Regions from separate parts of the Homo sapiens genome. Here region 1 is linked to region 2. Evidence: fine-mapped expression QTL. Tissue or cell type: whole blood. Region 2 holds a variant in brackets; the other region holds the start of a gene. All regions are shown on one strand. Distances are between the middles of the regions.

Region 1 (8,106 bases), 250 kb before region 2:
TTAACATGATTTAAAGGTCTCACTGAATGCCTATTGAAATCATTCATACACAGGGAAAACTCCATTTCCTAAACAGAAAAGGTTTGGTCAATGTGAGCCCTACCCTAAATTTTGTGTCTAATGTGTATAAGGCAACCACACAGGCCCTGGGAAGGCACTCCAGATCCCCAGGTAAAGGACTTCATACTTGCAGAGTGAGAATGGATCCTTTAAAAGACAGAGAAAGGGCCGGGCACAGTGGCTCACGCCTGTAATCGCAGCACTTTGGGAGGCCGAGGCAGGCGGATCACAAGGTCAGGAGTTCAAGACAAGTCTGGCCAATATGGTGAAACCTCGTCTCTACTAAAAATACCAAAAAATTAGCTGGGTGTGGTGGCACACGCCTGTAATCCCAGCTCCTTGGGAGGCTGAGGCAGGAGAATTGCTTGAACCCGGGAGGCAGAGGTTACAGTGAGTGGAGGTTGCAGTGAGCCGAGATTGCGCCACTGCATCCAGCCTGAGCAACAGAGTAAGACTCCGTCTCAAAAAAAAAAAAAAAAAAAAAAAAAAAAAAGAGAAAAGTTGTTTCCTAATAGAGATAAGATTTGGGAGTAGAGCAAAATCCTAATACAAAGCTTTTATTTCAGGCAGCAGAACAACATTGAAGAAATACTTTTAATCTCAGGCTATTTCTGCAGATTTGGAACAAAATCTTTCCCTGTAATTGCTCTCCCACTCCACCCACCCCTTGGACATGGCAATTCTACTCTAAGAGAGAAAAATATGACTTCAAAGCACATGCAATGGAACCCCTTGTCAGCACTGATATGGTGTGTACCAAGAAACAGAAAAGTTCATGGGTTCAAGCATTCTAATGCTCTTTTTATGGTGGGGGTGAAGAATGGGGGCGGGTGGCAATTTAGGGAAGAAGGGGAAGGAGAAGAAAGGGCAGCAGACACAGCAAAGTCAAACTGGATGAAACAGGCTGTTTTACTTTTAACTTCTCTAAAAGTACAGTCTGGGTTTCTGCGGGTGAACCAGTTAAGGGTTTTCTTCTGCTTTTACTTCTCGCCTATGCTCAAGCCTCCCTGGTCAGTTCTTGGACTCATCTGCGCCCTAATTTCATCATTTTAAGTAAATGTGGGGCTGGCCAAGGAGGACAAGGCCTCTTGTTCACTCCTGAAAGAGTCAGTGGTCATGTATTATGTTCCTAACCCTTACAAAGCGTGCCCCTGGTCACATGAATGGATCAAAGCAAATCCATTTCCATTCTTGGAAAAGCAGCTCAAAGCACATGTTCTCTTGATGGTGCTGCTGTCACTTCTGTGTGGTTAACAAATATCATTTATTGAACACTCACCGTGGACACTACTGGGGGATATGACAATGAATAAACTGCTCAATGAGGTCAAGACATCTAGGAAGGGAAGCAGGCACTCAAATGGCAGAAATACCATAAGCCTGCAGAACCGCACTCACGCCTTACCATTCCGTTCTCTGTTATGTTTGTCATCCCCACCTCAGGGGCTGGTGGTGTGTGCAGCAGAGGCTCTGGCTTATGGTTCGGTAGTTTGGTATCTGGAAATGATTAATAACATCTTTTAAAATAAAAATATCACTTTTCTCCTCCTTTGCTCCCCTTCCTCGACCATTTAAACTCAAACCTTTACAGAAAGAGATGAAGACAGCTCACTGTGTTACCAAGGTTAAGTCCAGTTTGATATAATGAATGGTAAAGCATTACACTGAGTCAGAAAAGTTGTATTCAAAAGTCGCTATGGGGAAAGAAAGAATCCAATCACCTCAGATTATAGAACTTGGCCTATGATAATTATAATTGCTGTTTTCTAAACATTTACGATGCACCAAGGACTACTCAATCTCTTCTGCATGTGCTATCACAATTAATCCTTTTATGAGGTAAAAATGATTATCCCTCTTTTATTATAGACAAAGAAACAGGCTTCATGTGGCTAAGTGATTTGGCCAACACAAAGCTGGTATGAAGGGAAAGCCCAGATTTGAACCTAGGTTTACCTGACTTGCAGCCGTGCCTTTAGCCACCACAATGTAATGCTTCAAGGGGCAGCACTGAAATTTAACAAGGAATTTGTAAGGCACCTTACCCAATCCAAAATGTCACCAGTCTGAAACATCCCAAAAAACCCTGTTTGAGATGAATGCTGCATCTGTCATGTAAAAGCACTACAGTGTTATACACTCTTAAAGGAAAGGGATGTTGACCAAAGAAGCCAAGTTATGTGTGTGTGGTTGCAGGCAACATTTCTTTTCCACATTTGCGGTACAAAACATAACCAGAACAAACTTCTTCCCTTCCTCTTCCAAAGGCACTGGAAGCATAAATTCTTGCTCTTTAAACTGAAAGAAGCAATAAAATCTGGACACCATCAGGTAGATTTCAGGCACTAAAAATAGAATGATCGAGTAATAGTACGGATAGCAGTATCTACCTACCTACCTACCTACCTACCTATGTTGTGTCTCTAGGTACATTTCAATATTGTGTTCACATACACATTTTCCCAACCATCACGGCAAGCTGAGAGGAGAGGTATGTATTCCCATTTTCCAGATTAACAAGAAGCCGCACTTGATAAAGCAAAATCAGGGAGAATTCGTTAAAGGAATTTCTTGACAATCCCTGGACTTCAAAGGGGGCAAGTGAACACCTCGATTTCCTTTCAGCTGCTCCGGGGGCAGTTTGCACACAGAATTTCAAATCTAGTGGGCGGCTCCACAGGTCATTTTCGATGACCACTTTATTTTGCAGATGAGGAAACTTGGGCCCTGAAAGACCTGCCTAGGGTCTGGCCAGCAGTATGAGACAGGTCTCCAGACTTAGTTTCTACCGCCCTCCAGAATCCTCTCTGTAAAATTAGAGAAACAGCACGTTGATTTCAAATGTGAAATGGCAGAGTTCTGTTTATTTCCCCAGACCCAAGAGAGCCGGAGCGGGCGGCTCTTCCAGGCCTTGGGAACCCCGGCCTGTCCCCAGGCCCGCGCGGCACCCGCCCTAGCCCAGGCCCGCCCAAAGTTCCCTCGGGTCCCGCGCCCCGCGCTCCCTCTCAAGCTAACCCCTGCCCGCAGGAAGCGGGGCTCGGAGGCTCCCTCGCAACAAAAGGCTAAATTCGGTTTCCCTGGTTCCGCATTTCCCCAGGGAGCTCTCCTCGTAAAACTATTCCCCGTGAAGGCGGCAGGGCAGAGGTCCAGGGCGGGCTTTGCTGGGAGCCTCGGGACCCCGGGTTGGGGGCCGTGGGGCGGCACCTGGCGAGCTGGCGGGTGGGCGGCGAGCCGAGGCTTCCCGGCCTGGCGGCAACTCGCCCCTCTGCCCTCAGCCCTCCCGGCTCCGCTCCCTTCCCCCACGCCGCCCTGCCCCTCCCCCACGCCCCTTTCTCTTTCTTTCTTTCTTTCCCAGTTCGCTTGCCCCCACCCCAGCGGCGCCCGCCGGGCTCCTCGCCCAATGGCCGCGGGGCCCGGGACCGCATCAGCTGATCGGCCCGGGCTCCTGGCCGCTGGGAGCCAATCAGGGCACCGGGGGCGGCCCCGGGCCGCGGATAAAGGGTGCGGGGCTGCTGGCGGCTCTGCAGAGTCGAGAGTGGGAGAAGAGCGGAGCGTGTGAGCAGTACTGCGGCCTCCTCTCCTCTCCTAACCTCGCTCTCGCGGCCTAGCTTTACCCGCCCGCCTGCTCGGCGACCAGGTAAGCCCCCGGACGGCCCGGTGTCACGCAAGCGAGGCGCGCCGCCCCTGCTACCCCGCGAGGCGCGCCGCCCAGCCTCTTTTTTCGGCTGCCTGCCCCTCCAGTCCCAGCCCTACGCTGCGGCCTCTCCGGCCCATGCCTGAGATCCGGCATGAGTGCTCCTCCCGCGTGCTTCCGCCGCTGGTGGCTTGGACCCGTCGGGGCTGGCGCTGGTGGGGCGCGCCCTTGGCCAGGCTCTGGGAAGGGCGGGGTGAGTTGTTTTGATCTTCTTTTCACTACTTGCGGCCGAAGCGCCGCCCCTGGAGGCCGTTGGGCCGGCCTGCGCCCTGGGGCTCGCAGTGGTTTGTTTGCGCTGTGGATGGAGTGGCGGTGCGGTCCCCTGTGGAGCGCAAACAAGGCGCTTGGTTGGCGCGGGCGCCTGGCTGCCTTCCTCGTGGTGGGGCCTTCGGAGCAATCGTCCTGGTTCTGGCGATGGTTGAGACGCCTCGATTGCGGCGTGTAACGGTGAGCGTTGTTTGGGCGGCCGGCTCCCGCCTCGGGGTCCCGGGGGCCTTCCAATGTGACCGAACAATGGAGAGCCCGGGCCTCGGCGCAGTCAGTGGAGAAGCCGGTCCGGGCGGAGGCAGCAGCAGCGCGCAGTCCCTACGGCCTGCGCCCCCACCCTCCCCCGGACCCCCCAACCCCTCGGCGGCAGGGTATGGCCACCTCCGTGAGGCCCTGAGATTCGGACGGGGGCCCGAGGGGCAGGGCGCCCACTTTAGGGACATTTCAGTGGGAAGGGGCTGCTCTCAAAGTGGATAATTATAACTCCCTCGGGGGCGGGAAGCGGGGATCCTCCCCCAGCCGCAAGTCCACGAAGAAAGCAACGAATGAAAATTATGAAGACAACGAGAAGTCAGACTCCTCCGGGTCGCGCTCCAGCTGCTTCGGCTTCGTCGCCTACTCTGTGAACTCCGGGGAGAGATCTCGAGTCAAGATTAAGACCTTAACCCACCAACCTGCCTGTTCGGACACCCCCCGGGCCGGCCGCTGTCTGTCCCCTTCTCCATCGCCCTCTCCCAGAAAGCTCCGGTGCTTGGACCAGCTAGAGTCTGAGAAAGAGGAGAGGCGCGAACGCCACTCCAAAAAGAGAAGGGTTAAAGAGGGCAACCCTAACGATACGCTTGACTTTCTGTGGCTGGGGTGAGTGAGGGGGCAGGGAGGACGACCCCGGAGTTGGTGGGAGCTGCAGAAACTGCTGAAAACTTCAGAATCCATTTCCCCCACGTAAACTTGGCACCGCAGCAGCAGCAGTTGATAGAGTGGCACTAGGCTGCTGGCATGCAACTCGGCTCACGGAAAAGAGCAAGAGATCCGAAACTGAGGCTTAGGACAAAGTGTGCATGATATTGGTGGTGTAACATGTTGGAGAGGACAGCCGAGAAATTGGGTTGTAGGTTTTTTTTTTTTGTTTTCCGACAGAGTCTCTATCTGTTACCCAGGTTGGAGTGCAGTGGTGCAATCTCCCGGCTCACTGCAACCTCTGCCTCTGGGGTTCAGGCGATTCTCCTGTGTCAGCCTCCCGAGTAGCTGGGATTACAGGCGTGCACAACCACGCCCGGCTAATTTTTGTATTTTTAGTAGAGACGGGAGTTTCATCGTGTTGGCCAGGCTGGTCTCGAACTTTGTACCTCAGGTGATCTGCCCGCTTCGGTGGGTTGTAGCTTTTAGCGGGAGCTAAAGGGTTCTGGGATGGAGGTGGGAAGTAGGATTTGGCCGGCTGAGTCTTCTAGAGGCAATATTGGGGTGTTGGTCTTCCCCAAGGGGAAGGGTGGTGAGGCTGAGGGAGAAGCAGTTATGTTTTCAGCTGGGCAAACATGGACGGTTGCCCGTAGAAACTTTGCCACTGTACTTCAGAACGTTGCCCTAGTCGTTGGAGGAGAACAATGTGTTCCCTTTCTAGCCACCCTGGTCCACGGAGGGAGGAGGGAGAGAGAGAATGTTTCCTCTTCGGCTGTTGTGGCTTGAGAGTTTCTCTTCTTTCGGAGGTTTTGTGGTAGTGGCTGGCAGTTATTAGTATGCCTCATGGCTTTTAAATTTCCAGATCTTTTTGATTTAGAAGTGGAAATTTCCTAATTACTTGACAAGTCTTGTAGAATTCCATAATGTTGTGATTCTTGCCCACTATCTTAAGTGAGACTTTGCATGAGACCTATGGAAATTATGGCAGCATTCCCCTTAGAATCTGGCTTGAATCAGCTTTTGTGTAGGAAACTGCTAGCCTTCTAAAAAAATATATTGTAACCTTGTTTCATCCTCAAATCTAAATGTGTAATGAGTTTTCTTTTGGTGGGGAGGGGCGGTGGGTTTGAGTTAAGACCACAGCTAGGATGAAAGACAAAGAGAAAAACAAACTGTGGAAGCCAAGCCTGTTCTGTGGCTGGATTTTACTTATATTGGAAGAAGTTCTATGTTTTGTAAATTTGTGTATTGGTTTTGATTTGTTTCCTCTGATAGTTTAGTATTTGGATAGTTTAGTGTTAACCTCAGCTACACTGAAGGAATAGACCTTAGTCCTCACAAGTATAAGTTCTAGCTTGGAAGCCTGGGTTCTGCAGTAGCTGTGGAACTTAAGCCTGTGAGCTCAGGGATGCAGAGGCATTGAGTTACTACCAAGGGCCTGATCTTTTCTTTAGCAGGCATCTGTGTTAATTGTTTCAAAAGGTGGTGATCAGTTTTACAGCCTATTATAAAGGAGATTTTTGCCTACTATAAAACTAATCCCCCTGAAAGAGTGAGTAAACATAACTTTTTGTGTGTTGACTTCCACAAGGGAAGGAGTTGGCACTTACACTCTGACTTTTGATTCAGTCGTCCTTCTTGAGCCATTTTTGCAGGGGATCAGTTTGGAGTGGGCGTTAACAATGTTATTCTTTTTTTCTTCTCCAGAACACCTTCCACCATGACCACCTCAGCAAGTTCCCACTTAAATAAAGGCATCAAGCAGGTGTACATGTCCCTGCCTCAGGGTGAGAAAGTCCAGGCCATGTATATCTGGATCGATGGTACTGGAGAAGGACTGCGCTGCAAGACCCGGACCCTGGACAGTGAGCCCAAGTGTGTGGAAGGTGAGACAGCAATGTGGAGTGGAGCACATGCTGGGTGGGATCTGCAGAGGGGTGGGCAGCAGCCTTTGACTCAGCCTCTGGATTAGGCCTCTTTCTTCTGTTTGTAAAGGTTTTCTAAGGCAGGGCTTTTCAGACTTTATTCAGTCAACATTAAGCTCCTACACTGCCTCAAAGCAGAGCGACGATGGAACCCTTTATTTCAATGGAATTGTGCACGTAGGCCAGTGTATTGAAGAAAAACTAAGTCTGGTTTATGGAGAGTTGGCATGGGGCTTAGAGGTTGCCGACCTGGACATCCCCACTTAGCTGGCTCTAAGGCACCCTCAGAAAACCACTGCTCTAACCTGAGAATGCCATCTAGTTTACAAACTCTTAGAAAACTGTGTTTAATACTCATATCACTGGCTTCTAGATGTGAAGCAAATGCTCTACAATGGTTTTTAAATAGGACTAATTTTTAGTTGATGCCACTTTTGGAAATTCTTAAACTAATTGCGTATCCCTCTAGGAGCTACAGTTAGATTATAGTTGTGACCTTCATTTTTCAGTCTAGAACAAGCCATAGTCTTCCCTCTTCTGGAAAGGGGCCAGAGGAAAGTATCATATCCTACCTAGTTTAGGGTAGTTTACTTTTCCTTTTTGAGTAAGTGAATGATCATAATACAAAGCCTATATTGTGTACTTGCTATGTGGCAGATGATAGTGCACAGACACTGAAGATACAAAGTGAGAGTCTCGTCTCTGCCTTCAGAGAACTCAGTCAGCTAGAGAGACCAAGCAGCCTTCAAAACAGTGGGAAAGGTGGATAGGTGATAAGGGAGCATCCTAGAGTAAGTCATCCTGCTAGTCGTCTGTTCCCTCATCTATAAAATAAGGACATAACTTGCCAGAATACACTGGGGGCATAAGAAGGATGCAACACATTACCTAATGGAAGAATCAGAATCCTTCACTATCTCAATATTTTAAGTGATTGATAGGATGGTAGTGATAACAGAATGCTTCAGCTTGTCTCCTGGAAGACATTTGGGAAGGGAGTATCTGATATATTTCTTTTAAGGAATTGGTACAATGGTCTTACTTGGAACTCAAATAGGAAGGGCTATAAGATCAGGTACAGGTGCCAGGGTATACATATTAATGATGGCATTTATACCTTAATGAATTCCTGGAAAAGAGATATTTAGAGATGGGAAGGTGAGTGAAGGGCTGGCTGTATTTGCATTGCTTGGAAAGCTCCTGTATGTTTTAAATGTAATTTTCCCTCTTTTTGCCCCAGAGTTGCCTGAGTGGAATTTCGAT
Region 2 (8,106 bases):
ACCCTGGTGCCTTTCTCTGAGGCCAGGGCCCATGGGAAAAGCTAAGGCAGGGCTGTGGCCTCAGATTACACTGTCACTCCCACGAGGCCGAGGAGTTTGGAGAACAGGGTTCTGGCACCGAGGAAGGCCTCTGAATTCTGTCTCAAACCCATGATTAACACTGTAATCTTAAGTCACTTGACCACTCTGTGCCTCGGTTTTCCTCAGCCGTAAAAAGGGGAAAGAGTACCTAAATCATTGGGTTACTATGAGAATTAAATAATTTAACCCTGCATAGCATATAGTTCATGCTCAGCAAGGGGTCACTGGCCCAGACAGTACACCAAGGACCCACACATGTGTCTTCTAGTCAAGCAAGCGTTCAACCAGACTCAAATTTTATCAAAAACTATTGTCATTATCTGAAGCACATGGTAATGAAGTCGTCTGAATAACTAGTTCAAAATTGTTTTGAACATAGTGATCCTTGGAAAATGAAAAAAATATATAAGTATTTTTCTAAACTGGAATGTGGCAGGGAGTAGATTAGGAACCCACTTTCCATCACTTTCCAAACATGACCAGATTTAACTGGACATATTCTGACACTCCATCCTGGAGATGGCTTCTTTAAGGAGCAGTTGTTGGGCAACAGCTACTTTCATCATTTTGGTTAGAAACTAACCCTGAGTAACCAGTCTTATGAGAGAAAACAGTTAATGTCTTAAAAATCTTTCTGACTCCAACTCCAGTGAGTAGGAATTTTAAGTCATGAATACTACTAATTGTAATACCCTGACTACTGATTATCATTATAGCTAACATGTATTGAGACCTTACTAAATACCAGGCACTGTCATAAGTGCTTTGCATGCATTAACTCATTTAGTCATCAGAAATAACCCCCAAATTGGTGTTATTTTCATTTCTGTTTGACAAACAAGGAACTAAGGCGCACAGATGTTGAGAAACTGACCTGTGGTCACACAGCTACTCTGCAGGCAGCTGGTACTGTGGCTCCTACGTGTAACTGGCCCTAACAGACATAGCTCCTCGCTGTTCTCTTAAACTTAGTACGTGGGGTTGAATATTCCTTTCTTATGGAAAGATTACAGTTTCATTTTTCTCAGTGAGGAAATTATTTTCATAAATTGATTGGATTTATTCTACACACAAGGTATTAGAATCAACATAGTTTTTTTTTTTTTAAGTTTCTATGTTTCCATTTTACTTTTTTTTTTTTTTTTGAGACAGGGTCTGGCTCTGTCACCTAGGCTGGAGTGCAGTGGCATGATCCCAGCTCACTGCAACCACTGCCTCCTGGGTTCAAGTGATTCTCCTGCCTCAGCCTCCTGAGTTGCTAGGATTACAGGCATGCGCCACCATGCTCGTCTAATTTTTGTATTTTTAGTAGAGACGGGGTTTCACCATGTTGGCCAGGCTGGTCTCGAACTCCTGACCTCAAGTGATCTGCCTGCCTCGACCTCCCAAAGTGCTGGGATTACAGGTGTGAGCCATTGTGCTTGGCCCATTTTACTATTTTTATGCTTACTTTGTATCTACAGAAGTGATATAGGTTTTGCATGTAAAGTGAAATTATCACTTTTACTTCTGAAACAAAATGATTTAAGTCAGAAAGTTTGCTTACAGGAAAATTAATGTAGTATGAAGCAGTATTACCAGGTGTCTGTGGGTGTGGTTGTGTACCCTGAGGGTATGGTACCGCGGGGCTGGTATGTGTACCCTGAGGCTTGGTGAGCACCTGGTCAGTGAGCCGGTGTTTGCCTGGACAAGTCTGAGCTGCAGTTGACACAATGGCCATTGGCCAAACTGGTGGAAAGTTTCAATGACAGGTAAACAAAAGACTGAGGACCAGGAGGGGAACAGCCAAAGAGGATGTAGGTATTACAAAGGAGAATTTGGGGAACATTCTACTAACCCGATAAGTAGCCGTGTGTTCAAAAATGTCTTTTGCCCTTCCCTGAGCCAGTCTTCCTTCAAAATGTTAACAATACCACTGTTTCTTTCATTCCAAGAAGCTTGATCTTCACACCTGACATTTCAGAGATCCTGTGTCTTACAATTGATGTGTATGTTTAACAGAGAAACATTTTTCTTCTCCTTTCCCCCTAAAAGCTGTTATTAACTCGCTGCTGTGTCTTAGTCAATGGCTTCTTAGAGTCTAGAAAATACAGTAAGAGTGATGTACGAGAATACGTGGTTTTGAATGTGGTGCTTAAGATACATCTTTGACTTAACAATTGCCTTAAAATCCTACCTTAACAAAAATTTAGCTCTTACTTTCAATTTTGATTTGCTTTTGATTAGACACAAGTAAGGAGTGAAGCCAGACACAAACCCAGCTCTTCTCATTTGAAGTTCAGAATTCTTTCCCCTGCATTCCATAATTTCTCCATATTTATCTCAGAGGACTATGCAGAATATGACAGTGGGTTACCATGGAATATCTGGGCAAGGAGCTCTAAGAGTAAAACTCCAGGCCAAAGACAAAACAAGTATTCAAATCCCAAGGCATCTCTGTGAGATGACAGATGCTCTTGTCTGCTCTTCAGATCCGAGGGGTTTCCGGAGGGCCAGCAACCATGCCCCCAACACGTAGATGGCTTAGCTTGCCTAAGAAGGGCGGGCATTGTAGAAATCTGGACAGTTCTGCTGACCTTCCTCTTTCTGTCTCCCCACTCTTGATTTTTTATGTTAGTCCCCATGGCACACCCTCTTTGTGAAGTCTCTCCAAATGGAAGCACAAGCTCTCCCGAAGGATCCCACACCCCACAGAGTGATCTCTAGGGTTGCCCATAGCAACAGCTGGTACCATGGAAAAAAGCCTTCCTTTCATCCGTCAGAGCTGGGCAGTAGGACCCTCTCCCAGGACCCCAGGAACAAGGTCTTTTTCTAGCTCTGCTATGGAAACTTGGGTGACACACATCACCTCTTGGAGCCTCAGTTTCCTCATTTACCAAATGAGGCTGATGTGAAGTCATTTTAGAGTCCCACTGAGGACCACTACTGTGATTTTCCTTCACCAACATGAGATACATGTGGCTGGTTTCAGGCTCTTTCCTGAAGCAGATCTTAGTACTGGGGAGGATGGACGGTGATGTCGCCACTGAGAGTGATGAGAGAGAGCAGACCCACCACCAGCTGCCCTCCTGATCCTTGGAAGGCCAGTCTCACATCTCAACATTCCCAGCCACCTTGTTACCAACGCTTGTGGAAAATTTGATTTGGACAGAAGGGACTCCAGCCCCTTTTAAGTATACATATGCACATGCTTTAATTATTAACTGCTTAATGTTGTCATTGAAAATATTTATTTTAATACTACTCTAAAAGAGTGAACATTTTTCACGTATTGACCCACAGCTGATTTCTTATCTGCTGTTACCAAGAACAAGAAAGGAGAGAATAAAGCTGAGGAAGGTGGCAGGCTCGATAAATGTTAGATTGAACTGTTCTTTTTCAGTGCATGCCCTGCCCTTATCACTGATATTGCCATTTTCTACTTTCTTTTTTTTTTTTTTAAAGTGTATTTTGAAGGCAAATAAGAAAAGAGAGCTATGGTGTAGTCTGGAAAACCAGGGTGTTTACCGTTTAGAGGAACCAGAAGTTCATAAGGGCCTGGCTGGACTAAGAAATGACAGCTCAGCACAGGGAAGGGGGG[A/G]AAAAAACCAACAGCAGCAGCAGCAGCAATGCAAGAACAAAACATTTTAAGAGATCTGGCCAGAACTGGTCTGTACAAATCCCCAGCTTGGCCTTCCTCCTCCACTCCCCCTGGCTCCCAGGCCTGTTTCCCGGAGTAGTAGCAGCCTTGCCTCCCCTTAAGAAACCTGCCCACAACTCACACTCCCTACATGCCAGTCATGCACACTCGTGTGTGTCACACCCTCTGCTCATCCCCCCACCCACTGAAGTCAGACCATGTGTGAGGGAGGATGAGAAGCCGGGGAAGAGGAAGACAGCTCAGCTGGCTGGCCCTGGCCCCTGAAGAAAACAAGCAGAGGCAGGGAGGGAAACATACTGTTCCCTGCAATCTGATCACCTCCGTGCAAGCCTCTGGGCTACACACCCAGGCCCAGGCCCAGAGGCCACGCTAATGAGACCAGGCAGGAAAAGTGAGCTGGTGACTGTTCCTGGGCAGATTAGAAACACATTGTGGAGAAGTGGGGGCACGGTGAGGGTGTGCAGGGCAGTGTGGTTGAGGCTGGGTGTGGGGCTGGGGCATGCGGGCCCAGAAAGGAGCAGAAGAAGGACTGCTGTCTTTCTGAGCTCTGATTCCAGCTCCTGGGGTGGCCCCCTGGCAGCTGCTGAGGCCTCACAGTGAGAAATCTGGAACAACAAAGGCTCTGGGACAAAAGACTCTCTGGCCAGAGGGGCTGCTGCTTTACAGGGGCCAAAAGCTTCACTTCTGAGGGGCACGTGGGTCCACCAGTGTGGGAGGCTGCAGGCTGAGAGGCAAATGGGGTTTATTGAGGAAAGGGAACAGATGTTTATTGGGCATTTGCTGGGTGCCCCCATTAAGCTAGGCTCTTTTTATGTATTTCACTGTGTTTGAGATCACTGTGAAATCCTCACTGCATCGGAAAATGGGAAGCAAATAGCTTTTTTCTTTTTATTAGGTCAGTGACACCTAGAGTTCGCCCAATATCACATCAGTGCCATTTGTTTGAAAAGTTAACCAGAGGCCAGCTGGGATTTTTGTCACTAGGAAAACAATGTAGCATGCGCTTCTTTAGCTTCCAGTCCAGGCAAGGACCTTCGGGGGTGTGAGGATGGAAGTATGTCTTCATGCTTTCTCCTGTGAGCCGCCAACCCACAGAACTGCTGGACCCTCAGCCCTTCAAATCCATCCTCCGGGAAGGTGCCTCTCAAACCTGCAGGGCCACCGCTGAAGTTCTCCCACGGACTCTACTCTAGCGCCCTCTGGTGGCCACCACTGCCAAGCCTGGTTGACTTGACTGGGAATTTCTGGTTAATAGCAGCTACGTTAATATCACTTAGCCCAGCTTTGTGAAGGTTCACTTGTGCTTTTACTTCACCTCTGATTTCTGCGTTATCATTACTCTTTCCATGTTTCCACAGCCTTTGTCAGTTCTCTGCTGCTTCATCTACGTTATTTTCATGGGGACCTGTGTTATTTTCATGGGAACCCCAAAATCAGGGAGATGTTTTCTTACCAAGATCTTTGTTTTGTACTATATTGCCAGTGGACCAACTTCGTTTTATTGGAATTTTTTTTTTTATTTTCTGGAGGATCTTTCTCCCTTCCTCCCCTTAGGAATTCAGGACACATTTCTGAAAGACTGGTTTTACTATGTGAGAAGCACAATGTTGTATACTATTTGAATTTGAGCTTCCCTTGTCCAGGGACGGAGTGTGGGCATGCCACCTCTGTTCAGTTATGGGGTGAGTTTCTTGGCCGCCTGGGACCCCTGCCTCCCGCCCAAGAATGCAGGTGAGAGCGTTTGCCCCTGGTTTTGACCAGGATGCCCAGTCCTGGTGTCTGAATTCCACCCATGAAGCCTGACCAAGCACAGTGGGAAAATCAGCCTATGGCCAATGGACATGGAGGCCAAGTTTGAGGGAGAGGGAGTTTGCCCAGAGTGGCAGCTGCAGATATGATCTGAAGGGTAAATGCTCACTGCAAAACAGGAGGGGAGCCAAGGTCAGAACCAGAGAGGCAGGGTCAGGCAAAGGGCATAGAGAAGAGCAAGAAGCTAGAGAGAGGAGAGGAGGCACACACACAGTTGGGACCAAAGAGGCCAGGTGAGATCTGGGAGGGGATGGTGAAGAAGCACAAGGCAAGGATGCCAGGGCTCTCATCAGGGGCCTGCTGTGTGTGGCATGGGTCTAAGTGGGTAAACCACAAGTCTGCAGATCTGACCTAGTTCACAGAGCCAAATGTACTCTCCAGATGTCAGGTTACTGTTTCTCCAGGGAGGCCCGTCAAGACCACAGGTAAATAGAATCCCCAGTAAGCCAGCCCCATGGCACAATTCCATGGATATAGAGCATGGGTATCTCTGGGGCCTTTGTCACACGAGTGTAGCTGGTGGATTAGCAGGGCCTTTATTTATGTCGGGCTTCATTTACTTGTTAATTTGTTCTTTAATCATTTATTCACTTCTATTTGACCAATGTTTTCAGGTGTCTACTGATGTTCTAAGTAAAATCCTGGGTAATGGAGCAGAAAGACAAATAAGATATGGTTTTGACTATTGTAAAGTCTGGATTTTCTGATTCAAAATTCAGTATCCCAGCCAGGCATGGCGTCTCATGACTGTAATCCCAGCACTTTGGGAGGCTGAGGTGGGCAGATACTTGAGGTCAGGAGTTGGCCAAGACTAGCCTGGCCAACATGGGGAAACCTGGTCTCTTTTAAGAATACAAAAATAGGGGCCGGGTGCTGTGGCTCATGTCTTAATTCCAACATTTTGGGAGGCCGAAGTGGCCAGATCACCTGAGGTCAGGAGTTCAAGACCAGCCTGGCTAACATGGTGAAACCCCCATCTCCACTAAAAAATACCAAAAAATTAGTCAGGCATGGTGGCAGACACTTGTAGTCTCAGCTACTTGGGAGGCTGAGGCAGGAGAATTGCTTGAACCCAGGAGGCAGAGGTTGCAATGAGCCAAGATCACGCCATTGCACTCCAGCCTCAGCGACAGAGCGAGGATCCGTCTCAAAAAAAAGAAAAAAAAGAAAAAAAAAGAAAAAAGGCTGGGTGTGGTGGCACATGCCTATAATCTCAGCTACTCAGGAGGCTGAGGCATGAGAATCACTTGATCCCGGGAGCCGAAGGTTGTAGTGAGCCAAGATCATGCCACTGCACTCTATCCTGGGTGACAGAGCAAGACTCTATCTCAAAAAAAAAAAAAAAAAAAAAAAAAAAAAGAAAGGAATCTCTGTAGTCTCTTTGGCTAATCTCCAAAATCCTGCTTTAGGCTCCCCAAAGCCAAACCTTTGCCAAACCTTTTATTTGAAGCTGAGGTGGCAAAAGGATAACCACACAAATTCCTTGAGCTCTGCAGGTAAACAGCTAGGTCCAGGGAGGCTACAGGGTGACCTCACCCAGCCTCAGGTCATAGGCTTATAGTAAGCCACAGCTGCAGGTATTATCTGCACCTTAGAGAATTTCTCCAGGCTTCACCACCTGAACTCTGCTACAAACCCTTCCCTTCTCTGTGCTGTTTTCCCTGGATCATGATCCTAGAGTCTCCTTGCCTAGGTCCTCTGCTTTGATGATGAATCTCTGGAATGTTGCCCATGAATTTAACTTCCATTTTTCCCTTGGATCCCTCCCTCACCTCCATGCACTACATCCCTCTGCAAGATTCCTGGAGCCCCAGCATCTCCGGTTTCTAAGATACAGCATCCCAGCCTCTGTCTAGCTCCTAGGGTTCCTGCTTGTTTAGAGAAAAGATCAGGGTTGGGTTCTACAGCCTGAGATGAAACTTGGCTGTTTCCACCCATTGCAACACAGGACCCGAGAGCCAAGAAGGATGAGAACAAAGTAAAAGTTAGTTAGGAACAGGTGAAGGAGCTGGGTTTTTGGTAATGGTAGCTAAGGCAAGCTGGGATTTTCAGTTTCTCTCTATGGGCCAGCAATCCTGAGTGCTTCAGATTGATTTAAAGGGTCAGAAATAAGAAAGGCAGATGGTTGTCAGCCTTGGTTGCACCTTAGGATCACCAGGAGAGCTTATAAAGAAAACCATGCAAACTCCAAGTAAACATGCTAGAATGCAATTTATGGTGGTAGATCAGCATTTGATGTCACTTGTTCAGGATTCCAGTGCTGAATCAGAATCTGAGGCTGCATCTGAGATAACATCACTGGAGTATAAGCCAAGGGCAGCAATGATCCCATCTCATGTGCCGATTCTGATTAATCTACAGTGGCTCCCTAGAACACTGTACTAAAAGAAGTTGGGAGGCTTGGTCTGTGCTGAATGAAAAAGAATGCAATGATCGGCTGGGCACAGTGGTTCACGCCTGTAATCCCAGCACTTTGGGAGGCCGAGGAGGGCAGATCACGAGGTCAGGCATTCGAGATCAGCCTGGCCAACATGGTGAAACCCATCTCTACTAAAAATACAAAAATTAGCTGGACG

The links. PIP is the estimated chance that this variant, and not a neighbour inherited with it, causes the effect.
Region 1: it holds the start of GLUL, and the variant in region 2 is fine-mapped to the expression of GLUL in whole blood (TOPMed, PIP above 0.99).

The regions. Positions count from the first base shown.
Region 1 is chr1:182,387,270-182,395,375 of GRCh38, reverse strand. It overlaps GLUL (glutamate-ammonia ligase), which reads left to right and starts at 3,586. Exons shown (of 7, transcript NM_001033044.4): 1 at 3,586-3,697; 2 at 6,626-6,804; 3 at 8,084-8,106. The coding sequence starts at 6,639. RefSeq lists a silencer at 3,171-3,850.
Region 2 is chr1:182,140,166-182,148,271 of GRCh38, reverse strand. No RefSeq gene overlaps it. Among named protein-coding and RNA genes, the nearest start is that of ZNF648, 83 kb to the right of the region's middle. RefSeq lists enhancers at 3,377-4,044, 4,045-4,713 and a silencer at 4,722-4,898. The variant A/G (reference allele first, on the strand shown) is at 3,662.